3 linked regions of the Homo sapiens genome follow. The protein of the gene in region 1 purifies or fractionates together with the protein of each later gene. This does not show direct contact. Each region holds a gene or a part of one and is shown on either strand. Other genes may lie near its edges. The genes, in order: SERTAD4, ZNF235 and DCX.

Region 1 (4,115 bases):
TTTTATTCGATTTTCATATTTTTAAATCAAGAGAAGAGTCATAGAAATGGGGTTGAGAAATATAAGAAATTTCATGAGAAACAACTAATACATCGCCATACATTCTATCAGTTTCATTGTGGTCAAAAGCAGGTGTTTCCACACTGTGAATAAGTAGTTTGCATTTTCAAAGTTAACAAATTGGATCAACAACAAAGAAAAGAAACCAACCATAGACAGCCCACCAGCGGATTGTTTACCAAAGAAGATGAAGCTCATGGCGATGGTTTGCAAACACCACCAGACTAGCTTGTGTAAATTCCCTTCGTTTAGTCATCGTTCTTCAGCCTGTCACAGATACTGAAGGGAAATGCAGAAACAGGAAATTACAGACTATTTTAAACAGCATGTTTTATTAAAGTCACTTGCTGATGCACTTTATGGCAGGATGCGAGATTCAAGTGTTCATAACTTACATCTTTGCAAGTGCTTTTCCTAAGTGAGTTCTCCCAGCTCAAATATGGCAGGTACCCAAGGCTGGGAAATAATCTCCAAACTAGTAACTCTTTCACCCCAGGTCGTGTAGCTATATCACATAGAATTGAGACATTTTAGCCATGTCAAGATAATATACCTTGCTTAGGCACTATAGCTAAGAAAGCAACAGAGAGGCATCTTGTAGTAACTTAAAAGATCCTTAATGCATTTATTTTAAACCACAAAATCAAAATACAGCAATCTTAAAATGAATCACTATAAACCATACATTGTCTCTTCTTTTATTATTTAAATACTGATATCATTCTTCTCTTCATGGGACAGTTCTGCACCTAGTTTAAACCATCATTACTAATGCCATGCTGAATGCTTGTCTCTGAAAAAATCTAGTAAAATTGGCAGGGATGTGATAACCTTAACTACAAATGAAATAACTTCAAATTTAAGGGGCTGTCAGAAAAATGGAATTTCACAACTAATTATTTCCAAAAAAGTCTCCTGCTCACCATTTGTTAGAAGGATATAAAAACCTAGCTGCATCACATAGGAATCCTTGTATCCTTGTCTTATATTTGTTGCGAAGTTGATGTCTCTTAATGGTCATGTCTTCTACAAGTTGTCCTCTGCTCTGCTCCTGATACACAGAAAGGAAGTCACCAAGTGGAGCTGTAATACAAGTTCATAACTGGAGGGGTGGGTAGCCATGTCTTGATGGAGTTAACTATGAGCTCTAAAAATAAATACTTTCATTCCCTTGCTTCACCATTTAACAAAGAAGCATGTAAAATGTTCTAAATTTCTGTTGTCTTAATAAAAGGTCACGCCAAAGATGCTTTCCCCTAATTTTCAATTCATTGCCAGGTAGTGGCATCTGCTGGTTTTGAATTTTTCTGTCTTCCTCCCATGTCCCCTGTCCCTGCAATCCTGTCCCTAGGACCCCTGCAAAGTGAAATGTAGAATAATAGGATTTTGAGTGGAAAGATGATGATGAGACTTTTGCCCTTTGAAAATCCCTTTGCCAGACCACCTTCTATAATCTGCTGTTTTTAGAAAGGAAGGACCAGAGACAAAGGTTAATGATTTCATTAATGATATGCACCCAGATGCCTAGGGGAATAGCAATTAAAGGCACTCTTGGGGAGCAAGGCAACTTTCTTAAATGAAGATTTCCCCTCATTTATCTTTTAATAGTCTTGATTCTGTCATATCAGGTTTTCCTTAAAGCAGAGCACAGCAATGAGAGAAGGTGCAGCTTCCAGGCGCGTAGATACCAGTGTGGGTGGAGGATGTCTTAGCTTTTCCAAGTTGCTCGAGATAAAACTATAGAATCCAGTTAAGAGATATAACTTACTATGAAGGGTGTCCTGGCCACTCTAGGAAAATCTAATGGAATATCTCATGCATAAAAGACAATGCTGGGTGCATGGGAGGTGAACACAGGAAGTCCTAGCACTCTCGCCTACTAACAAGAGAATTTTTGTGGTTTGGATGGGTGTTTAGGAATTAGTGTTTGGTGAAGAAATTTTTTTTTGCAATGCTAGAAATATCCTGGAAACAAAAACTTGATGACTAAAAAGAACAGATTTTTATGCTGCTGGATTCAAAGGCATCACTTATCCTACAGAGAAGTGATTCTAGTGGGTTCTACCGAACAGGTGCAGGCGCTCACAGCTCAGGTGAGTGCTGCTGAAAATCACCAACTTTGTCATTTTACAGCTTTGGCCTTCAAGAAAAACACTATCTAGTAATGCTGGGGCTTTTAAAAAGCAGAAGGATAAGTCCTTTCGTTCATATTTAAATCTCCATGAGATATTACACTCATAATAAGAATGCTACATTTGACAAATTAATTAGTTTTTAACTAGCTTTCCCCTTTATCAAATATTAGCTCCTAAGAACATTAATATGGAATTGTATGGAATGCTACTAGCAATAATCTGTAGCTGTTATAACTGTTTACATATGGGTCATCTTCACAGTTTGACAGTTCATAATGCAATCAGCTAAGATTCAGTATTTATGGCTTCGTGTTATACAATTTTTTTCAGAGACACTCCAGAAAGGAAAATCTTTACATTCTTTCAGACATAACCTTATTGATCACCACATCATCTATTAACATTGTGCTTCTTAATCAATAGAAACTTAAACTTACGAACTAGGATCATTCTGAAACACCTGTCAGATTGGCATTTTAAAATACTCTTTAATTTAGAAAACTCCTGTGTGGCCACTATCCACTACAGTTTCTAGATGTTTTGAGTTTTTTAAAGGAGAGAGAATAATGGAAAAGAGAAACATAGCCAATAGCCATTAAAATTTAAAAAACTTAATGAATTTTTATCATCTTAATAAATATATATCAAGAAAACCTCACTTTATTACAACACATTCATATACAAGCATCTATTAGCTAAGTTTTGAACATCAAATGTTTATCAAATATTGAAAATAAAGGACAAAACATTACTAGACTATTTAACTATAACACAAGAAAATGTTTTAAAAATTGGTCTTTGTGGACAATTGTCCAAATGATCCTACTCATACACTGTATGAATGAGACCTATATTTAATATTAATAGCAATAATAAAAAAAGCTTTATCTTGGAGAAACTGGGAGGGCTTACTTATTTCCTCCGTTTGGCATTTGGTTTCTGTGAAGTATTATTTGAACAGGCCCAAGTCAATTAGTAAACTTGGAAACTGGAATACAGTTTAGCAGGAAGAGTTGGCTGGAGTGGAAGGAAGGATGGTAGGAGGGCCACTCTGAACACTTTTCAAATGTACAAGTTAAAGATATTATTTGGAAAATGTAGACCAAATACATAGTAACTATTATAGATTAAGTCCCATTTCTCCAAAATAACTTTCAAAAACCTAAAGTCTTTACATTCTTTAAGATAAACCTTATTGATCACCACATCATTTATTAACATTGTGCTTCTTAATCAACAGCAAAGTTCATATATAAAAACCCACATGCTTTTATAATCTAAACAAGTGAAATGATGCAAAACAGAGAAAAGTATAATGCATGCCACTGGTTCGTGAACTTCATTGGACAAGAAAACAAAACAAAACAACCCAAAACCCAGAAAACCCCAACCCCAGCAACACACAGTTGCCATAGAAAAGCTCGAGCAGCCCGTGCTGCTTTCTAACAGCTCTCTCTCTCATTTCCTCCATCCCTATTGAAAAAACGGCGAATCCAAAAGCAATTGGGCATCAAAAATAAAGAATAGAGATGTCGAATCAAAAGCTGAACACAATAGTTCAAAGTTAACAGTTTCCAAACCATATTGATCCACCCTGTGGTTTTTTTTTTTTTTTTTTTTTTGTCCTGTTTGTTAAATCCCTGCTGTAACTCTGATTTATCCTTAATTTTCACATTGGCAAAAATTAAGATAAAAGTAAGGCACCAAAAATCGCCCTGTATAACACCTCTCTAAAAGCCTCATCACCCATCACAGGCAAGCCAGAAACTTGCAGGGAATACCCTCTCTGTGTAAGACTGTTGATTGCCGCCCCTAGACAGGTGTGTTTCATTATGTTACATCCTATTTTCATCTGTCACACAAGACTGTTAGGTACAAATACTTAACAGCACCATTAAGCCATTTCATCTAGCTCCCTGT
Region 2 (3,655 bases), on another chromosome or scaffold:
TTAATTCTAAGTAAAACCTTGTATTATAGTTAAGTATCTGTTTTATTCATTAACATGTTATTATATTTTAAAGATGCACATACTTAGTTTAAAAGTCTTATAGCACTAGGAGATTCACCAGGAATTTGCACCATGGAACAGCTTTGTGAGGATGTAGATGGCCTTATCTGTATTTTAAACATAAAGAGACAGGTGTGAACCTTTAGACACTTATTGAAGTCCACTCAATGCCCAGCTGACGTTAAAGCTTCCAGTGCCTAAGCCAGAAGTTTCAGGTGTTCCATTTGGGTGAAGGCCAGGCACAGTGGCTCACCTGTAATCCCAGCACTTTGGGGCTGAGGTGGATCACTTGAGGTCAGGAGTTCGAGATCAGCCTGGCCAACATGGTGAAAGCCTGTCTCTACTAAAAATACAAAAATTAGCTGGGCGTGGTGGCGCACACCTGTAAGCCCAGCTACTCATGTAGATGAGGCAGGAAAATTGCTTGAACCTGGGAGGCAGAAGTTGCAGTGAGCCAAGATCACACCACTACACTCCAGCCTGGGTGACAGAGTGAGACTGTCTCAAAAAAGAAAAAAAAAAAAGAGACTATTCAGGGACTTGAGGCTATGCTACACATGTATGTGTCCCTGGCATGTCCTGGTGGATGAAGGGCTCCAGAAATCACATTGCTCTTCACCAGATTCCCTTTCTCAGTGCATGGCTCTTTGCCACATGTGTCATCGAGTTGTTTGGTACATAGATGTTCAGAACTCCAGCCAAAACAAATGCAGGGATGTGCAGTGTCTTCAGATAAAAAATGTTAATTTCCATACAGAAAAACACCATATACAAACTTTATGAGACAAGTAGGAAACAGGTGCGGGGTAGGAATTTATATATTCTAGAAAATGACTTAATATTCTTAATAGTAATGTTACTGATACATGAAAAATCCCAGTAGGATTAAGGAAAGGCAATATGTGAAGAAAAGTAATATCAGATCATCTTTAAAAAAATTAAATAGCTGTTTATATCACTCACCAAATTACTCAAGATTTAAAAAAAAAAATGTCCAGTTTTGGCCAGAGTATGGAGAATCGGGAATACTTATAATCTCTTACGGGAAGAGTTAATTGAGAAAATTAACATTATACCAGCAAAACAAAGGTATATATATTTTTTTACAATGTAATTACCACTTCTTGGAACTTACCTTTTTTTTTTTTTTTTTTTTGAGACGGAGTCTCGCTCTGTCATTCAGGCTGGAGTGCAGTGACATGATCTTGGCTCACTGCAACCTCCGCCTGCCGGGTTCAAGTGATTCTCCTGCCTCAGCCCCCCGAGTAGCTGGGATTACAGATGTGTGCCATCATGCCCAACTAATTTTTGTATTTTTAGTAGAGACAGGGTTTCACCATGTTTGTCGGGTTGGTCTTGAACTCCTGACCTCAAGTGATCTGCCCGTCTCGACCTCTCAAAGTGCTGGGATTACAGAAGTGAGCCATTGCCCCCAGCTGGAACTTATCTTAAGGAAATAACCATACGAGCTGGCTAAGATCTATGTAAAAATATGTTTTCTTGTGGCATTGTCATTTTTAAATTTAAAATGATCAAATGTGCATTATTTAGAATGGTTAAATATATTGTAGATCATGTTTATGGACTATCATGCAGCTATGAATGGGATGAAATAGATGATGGTGATGATAATAAGAGTTAATGATCAACATTTATTGAGTACTTACTGTATGTCACACACTGTCCTAAGTTCTTATATGTATTCACTCATTTAATCCCTTCAAGGACCCTATGATATAGGTCCTCTTATACAGATGTGGAAATTGAGGTTTTGTGACCAGCGTCACAAAACTAGCAATGGATAGACCCTTGGAATGTGAACTAAGGCAGTCAAACTCCAGAGCCTGTACTCTTAACCTTGACCCTAAATGCTGCTGCAGTTGACCAAGACAGCATGTTCCTGAGAACCCAGAGAGTGAACTGCGTACTTGTGCCAGAGCTTTATGAAGGCCTGTTGGATTGACAAAATAGTGGTAGTACTATCAAACACTGTTGGGAAGAAATTAATGCAAAATTTCTTATCAAATTTGGTGCTATCAGTCAAATGGTAAAATGTGTGTATGCCATGATTTAACAATGACAGTTCTAGGAATTTAACTATATAAAGGGCACCACGTTACATGTACAAGGTGTTTTCCTTCTTCCCCCTAGCATTTTTGGTGTGATTGTGGAAGGGGAAGAATAGTAACTCTACAGAAAGAGTTGCTTAGGTGCCAGTGGCCATTGGGTGTGAGATTGAGGTTACATGTGCTTGATGTTCTAGGAGGCAGTGACATTCAAGGATGTGGCTGTGGCCTTCACTGAGGAGGAGCTGGGGCTGCTGGACTCTGCCCAGAGGAAGCTGTACCGAGATGTGATGCTGGAGAACTTTAGGAACCTGGTTTCAGTGGGTAAGGACAGGCACCCTCTGTAATTCAGCAGGGTTTCTCAACCTCCATGCCATTGATGTTTTGGGCCAGATAATTCTGTGTTGTATCAGGCTATCCTGTGTATTTTGGGATGTTTAGTGGCATCCCTGGCCTCTGTCCCCTTGTTCAAGGCTTTGGGACTGCTCAGAGACTAGAGTTTTTCTATCTCTTTAGAGCATAGAGACAAGATGTTTCTGACCTTTGTTCCAAGACAGATGATTTTCTTTTAGACATGAACTATAAAAGAACAGTTGAGCTTGGCTCCTCCTGATTCCTTATTTCGTATATCTTTTTTAAACTTGTGGGTCATGATCCATTGGTGGGTCAGTAAATTAGTAAGTTACATAAGCATTTTTGTAATAAAATAGAGTAACAATATCAGAGCCCCTTAGCCAGAATGGTGCACATTGTGGCAATAACTGCTGCTGCTTGCCGTAAGGGATGTGATGAAAACAGATATTGATTAGAAATAGGTCCTTTAACCTTTTATTTCAATAGTTTACACAGGGTAATGTATTTCCAGTGATAGTAAATGTATTTCTTATAATGTGTCATGACAAAAAAAAATGTTCCCTAAACATTGCATGCTGGGGCAGGGAGGAGACTTACATCATGTGATTGGAACCAGATTTTTTCAGTACTCTTTGCCTTTAACATTTTCACTTAAATACTATCTTTTTATAGGACATCAGTCCTTCAAACCAGATATGATATCCCAGTTGGAGAGGGAAGAAAAGCTTTGGATGAAGGAGCTTCAAACCCAAAGAGGTAAGCATTCAGGTGAGTACTGTGCAGCCGGAATCGTAGTTAACAGCTGTTATTTTTCCTTTATTCAGGATAATTTCTTCTCCACTCAGCTACCTGAGAGACTTTTTTAAAAAACATCTGTCATGGTTGGGCGCGATGGCTCAAGCCTCTAATCCCAGCACTTTGGGAGGCCTGGCAGGTGGATCACTTGAGGTCAGGAGTTCAAGACCAGCCTGGGGTCTTTAACATAGCAAAACCCTGTCTCTACAAAATGTAAAAAAATTAGCTAGATGTAGGTGTGCCTGTAGTCCCAGCTACTCAGGAGGCTGAGATGGGGGGATTGCTTGAACCTGGGAGGCGTGGGTTGCAGTGAGCTGAGATCTGCTACTGCATTGCAACCTGGGTGATAGAGCGAGACTCTGTCTCAGGAAAAAAAAAAA
Region 3 (3,655 bases), on another chromosome or scaffold:
TGGGTTATATGGTGGTTTAAAAACAGATCTACAAATTCTTCAACACTCTTTCCTTTAATAAATAGAGTCTGGTTCCTCTCTCTTTGAATGTAGGTTGGACTTAGTGACTGCTTCCAATGAATATAATAAAGGAGAAGTGACAGTGTTGGCTATGGAGACTAGATCACAAAAGGCAATACATCTTGTTCTTTATTCATTCTCTTGGATCACAAACTAAGGTAGGAGATCTTGCCAACAGCCATATTGTAAGTGGATCCTACAGCCCCAGTTGAGCCTTCAGATGACTGCAGCCCCTACTAATATTTTAATGATACCCACATGAGAGACTCTGAGCCAGAACCACCTAGATAAAACACTCTAGAATTTCTTGCCCACCAAAACTGTGAGATAAAAAAAAAATGCCTTTTCTTTAAGCCACTAAGTTTTGGGGTAATGAATTTGTTTCACAGCAGGATACAAGTAATACAGGTTAGAAATCCCAGAAATAGCTACTGCTGTTTCTGAGAAATGATTAGCTAAGCAATTATTGCCAGACTTTATTAATCTTGACCAAGTGTTTTAAAGTGTATTTTTTGCAATTCTCTGCTTAAAAACTGTCAAATTTTATTCTCAGCCCAGGTGTTAAAACCTAGGTCTTTGTAGTTTCAGCAATATAAATTTGCTTAGATATAGATTTATGTGCTCTTCTGTACATTTGAACAAGATAGCATCAAGGCACATGTATTTTTTATTTCTTCAGCAAACATTATCTAAATGCTTGATTGGTCTCTAGCACCATGTTGGGTAAAATAGGTACTGTTGTGCATCTATTTATTCACAAATATTACTGGAGCATCTACTAGGGGCCAGGCACTATGCTCTGCACTGATGATATGAAAATGAACCTACCACATTACCTTTGAGGGGCTCAGCATTTAATTGGGGAAGTAGACAGGTAAACACATACTTGACAACACAGTGTGGTGAATATTACCCCAAAGATATGAATGGCATGCTATGGTATTGCAGAGACTGGAACAATTATCTCTATGTGAGGTCTTGAAGGATGAATAGGAGTTTTCAAGCAAAAAAGGCTGATGGGTTAGAGGATGGCATTCCAGGTATGGGGGAACAGGGAGTGCAAAGACATGGAAGTACTAAAAGCCTGGGTTGCCTTTTCATACTTTAATTTCCTCAACCCAAGAATAAAGAGATGGCTGGTAATATGCATGCTCCTGGCAGTCTGATGCAGGCAGTACAGGCTATTCATCTTGGCACCAGCATTTCATAGCCATCAGGCTACTCATGATGCCCCAAACTGAAGGGCCCTTTTGTTTTCCCAAGGCTCTCAGACTGCAAGAATTCTCATGATAAATTCTGAGCCTTGGGATGACAAATGTATAAGTATTTTGGACCATATAGTTTCCTTAGTGTGAAGAACCTCAAATTGTGCATAAATCTAAGCTTCTGAACTTGGACTTCTAAGGCCTTTTATTTTTGATATTTGTTATAAAAGAATGGAAGACATTGCCTCTTAGATCAGTGTCACTCAAACTGTGGGTCCAAGACAAGATAGGGTTCACATCAGAATGCAAATCAACATACTGCTGCCTTCATCAATAAAATCAGGCTCTGAAAAAAAGGCAGCTGAGCTAAATGGTTTGCTTAATGGCATAGTTTATTTACATTTGGCACAAGCTCCTAATCTTGCCACAGACTGACTGGTAATAAATAGTTCATGGGTTGGCAGTGATCAATAGACGACATGTTTTAGATAACTCACTATCCACTAAATAGAATCTTCTATGGCAAATCTCTTTGTTTTCTTTTAGAACCTGGTCTGTGCTTTACTTTCCGGTTGTGAGGTTTATACAATTTATCTTGTCCCCCTATTTATATGGCATATATATGTAGTGTACTTGTTTCCCTTTTTGTTTTGGCTTCTAATTACTTCAGAGTCAAATTTGAAGCTCAAGTGAGTCAACTATGTTGACACTTTGGGGTGTTGTTTTTTATATTCTTTTTCTTGATTCTGATTTTTAATTTCAGGTTTATGGTTAATTTGATTATTCCATTGAATATGTTTTTGCCACATGATGTTGAAGATGATGAAAATGATGACAACCATGAAAATAAACATTACAGCAAGCATAGACAATGGGCCAGGCTTCTGGTTTGCATCCATTTGAATGGAATAATGGTTGTAGCTGTGCCTCCATGACTCCAAACAAGTTTGACTGTTTTAGTCCCTGAATTGATAGAATAGGGTTTCATGGAGACACAGTGGTGTTCATGAGGAACTGATTCCTCTGCATGCAGAAAGTATTGTCCTCCATAAATGAAGTCAGCGTGCACAGTTAGGAAAAGAGCACTCACCGTCTTGGTCGTTACCTGAGTCAGCTGGAGACTTGCTTCGGCGCATAGGACCAGGGCTCTTGGCTGAAGTCTTCTGAGGTGTTGGGGATGCCTTTGGGCCAGCTGTGGCTGATGGGTTTCCCTTCATGACTCGGCATTCTGGGGCAAAAGGACACAGACAGCTTAGTAGAGGATAAAACAGGCTCAGCATGTTATCAGCCTCTGGAAACCGCAATAACCATCACAGGCCAAAGGACCTAAATGGGTCAGGACTACAATGTGGTCCTTATTATTAGTAGGAGCCATGGTTCTGGGGAGGGAGGCATTAGGGAAACCTTCAAAAGCCACCTGGGCTAAGCTAGGTGTTTAAGCCCCTGAATTACGAAAACAAGGGCAAGAGTCCATAAACAGGTCAAGTAGGCAATTAAATAGTCAATTCAATCATTTATGGACAAGCTAGCTATGTCTCAGAATAGCACCTATTGATATAATGTTTAATTAATTTCCCTGAATTAGAGATTAACAACTCAGAGGTTACAGCTACACAGATGAAACATCCATTGAGTAATTTGAAGGAGAGGTAGAGAGCTACCACTTACTATTACATGCCACACGTTGATAGACACATGATGGATATCATGTCACTTTATATAAATAAGCACTATGACCACCACCATCTTGCATTTATCAAGTTCTTTTCGATTTCCCATGTATGTTATTGCCATCCCTTATGGGGGGTTAATGAATAAATGGGCCAGCAGTGACTCTGCCACTAAAAACTTAAGAAAGCTTGCTGGTGTGTGGGAGAGTCTGCCAAATGTTCTTGTATTTGCCCTAGCCTCAGTCTGACACCTTTGGAACACCCTTTCTATGCAGGTCACTCAGCATCCCCTTCTATGGTCATTTTGGGCACTAATAGTGCTAATTTATTAGAAGGATTATTATTCTCATTTTGCTGATGAGAGTACAAAAAACTTAACCCCTTTGCCTAGGGCCACAAAACAAGAAATTAGTAAAACAAGGTCTAAAAGTCAAGTCCCCTGAGTTCCAGTTTAGTGCTCTTTCTACTACAGTTTTTCCAACCTTGTGCTGTGATGCACAAAGGGGAATCAAACAGCAGAGTAGAGGATATAGTCTCTCCTTTCCTTTAAACACTTTCTTGTTGCCTCCTACTTAAAGGTGCATTGAAATATAAATTAAACAGAAAGATTAGAGGAGCTTTTCTGGTAAATTGAATATTTTAGGAAACTGAGTTAAGCAGAAAGCCCCCTTTTGTTTGTTTCACTTCTTGTTTTGGTTGGTGACCTTTAGTGATCACTGT

The links.
Region 2: the proteins of SERTAD4 (region 1) and ZNF235 purify together in Homo sapiens (affinity purification with mass spectrometry; one large-scale study listed by BioGRID and IntAct). This does not show direct contact.
Region 3: the proteins of SERTAD4 (region 1) and DCX purify together in Homo sapiens (affinity purification with mass spectrometry; one large-scale study listed by BioGRID and IntAct). This does not show direct contact.

What each region holds. Positions count from the first base shown.
Region 1 is NC_000001.11:210,242,796-210,246,910, reverse strand, and holds the end of SERTAD4 (SERTA domain-containing protein 4), read right to left. Parts: 3' UTR 1,112-4,115; coding exon of another isoform or gene 984-1,111; 3' UTR 656-983; downstream 1-655.
Region 2 is NC_000019.10:44,298,401-44,302,055, reverse strand, and holds part of ZNF235 (zinc finger protein 235), read left to right. Parts: intron 1-2,323; coding exon 2,324-2,450; intron 2,451-3,152; coding exon 3,153-3,248; intron 3,249-3,655. UniProt on the Homo sapiens protein: May be involved in transcriptional regulation.
Region 3 is NC_000023.11:111,328,549-111,332,203, forward strand, and holds part of DCX (neuronal migration protein doublecortin), read right to left. Parts: intron 2,494-3,655; coding exon 2,356-2,493; intron 1-2,355. UniProt on the Homo sapiens protein: Microtubule-associated protein required for initial steps of neuronal dispersion and cortex lamination during cerebral cortex development. May act by competing with the putative neuronal protein kinase DCLK1 in binding to a target protein.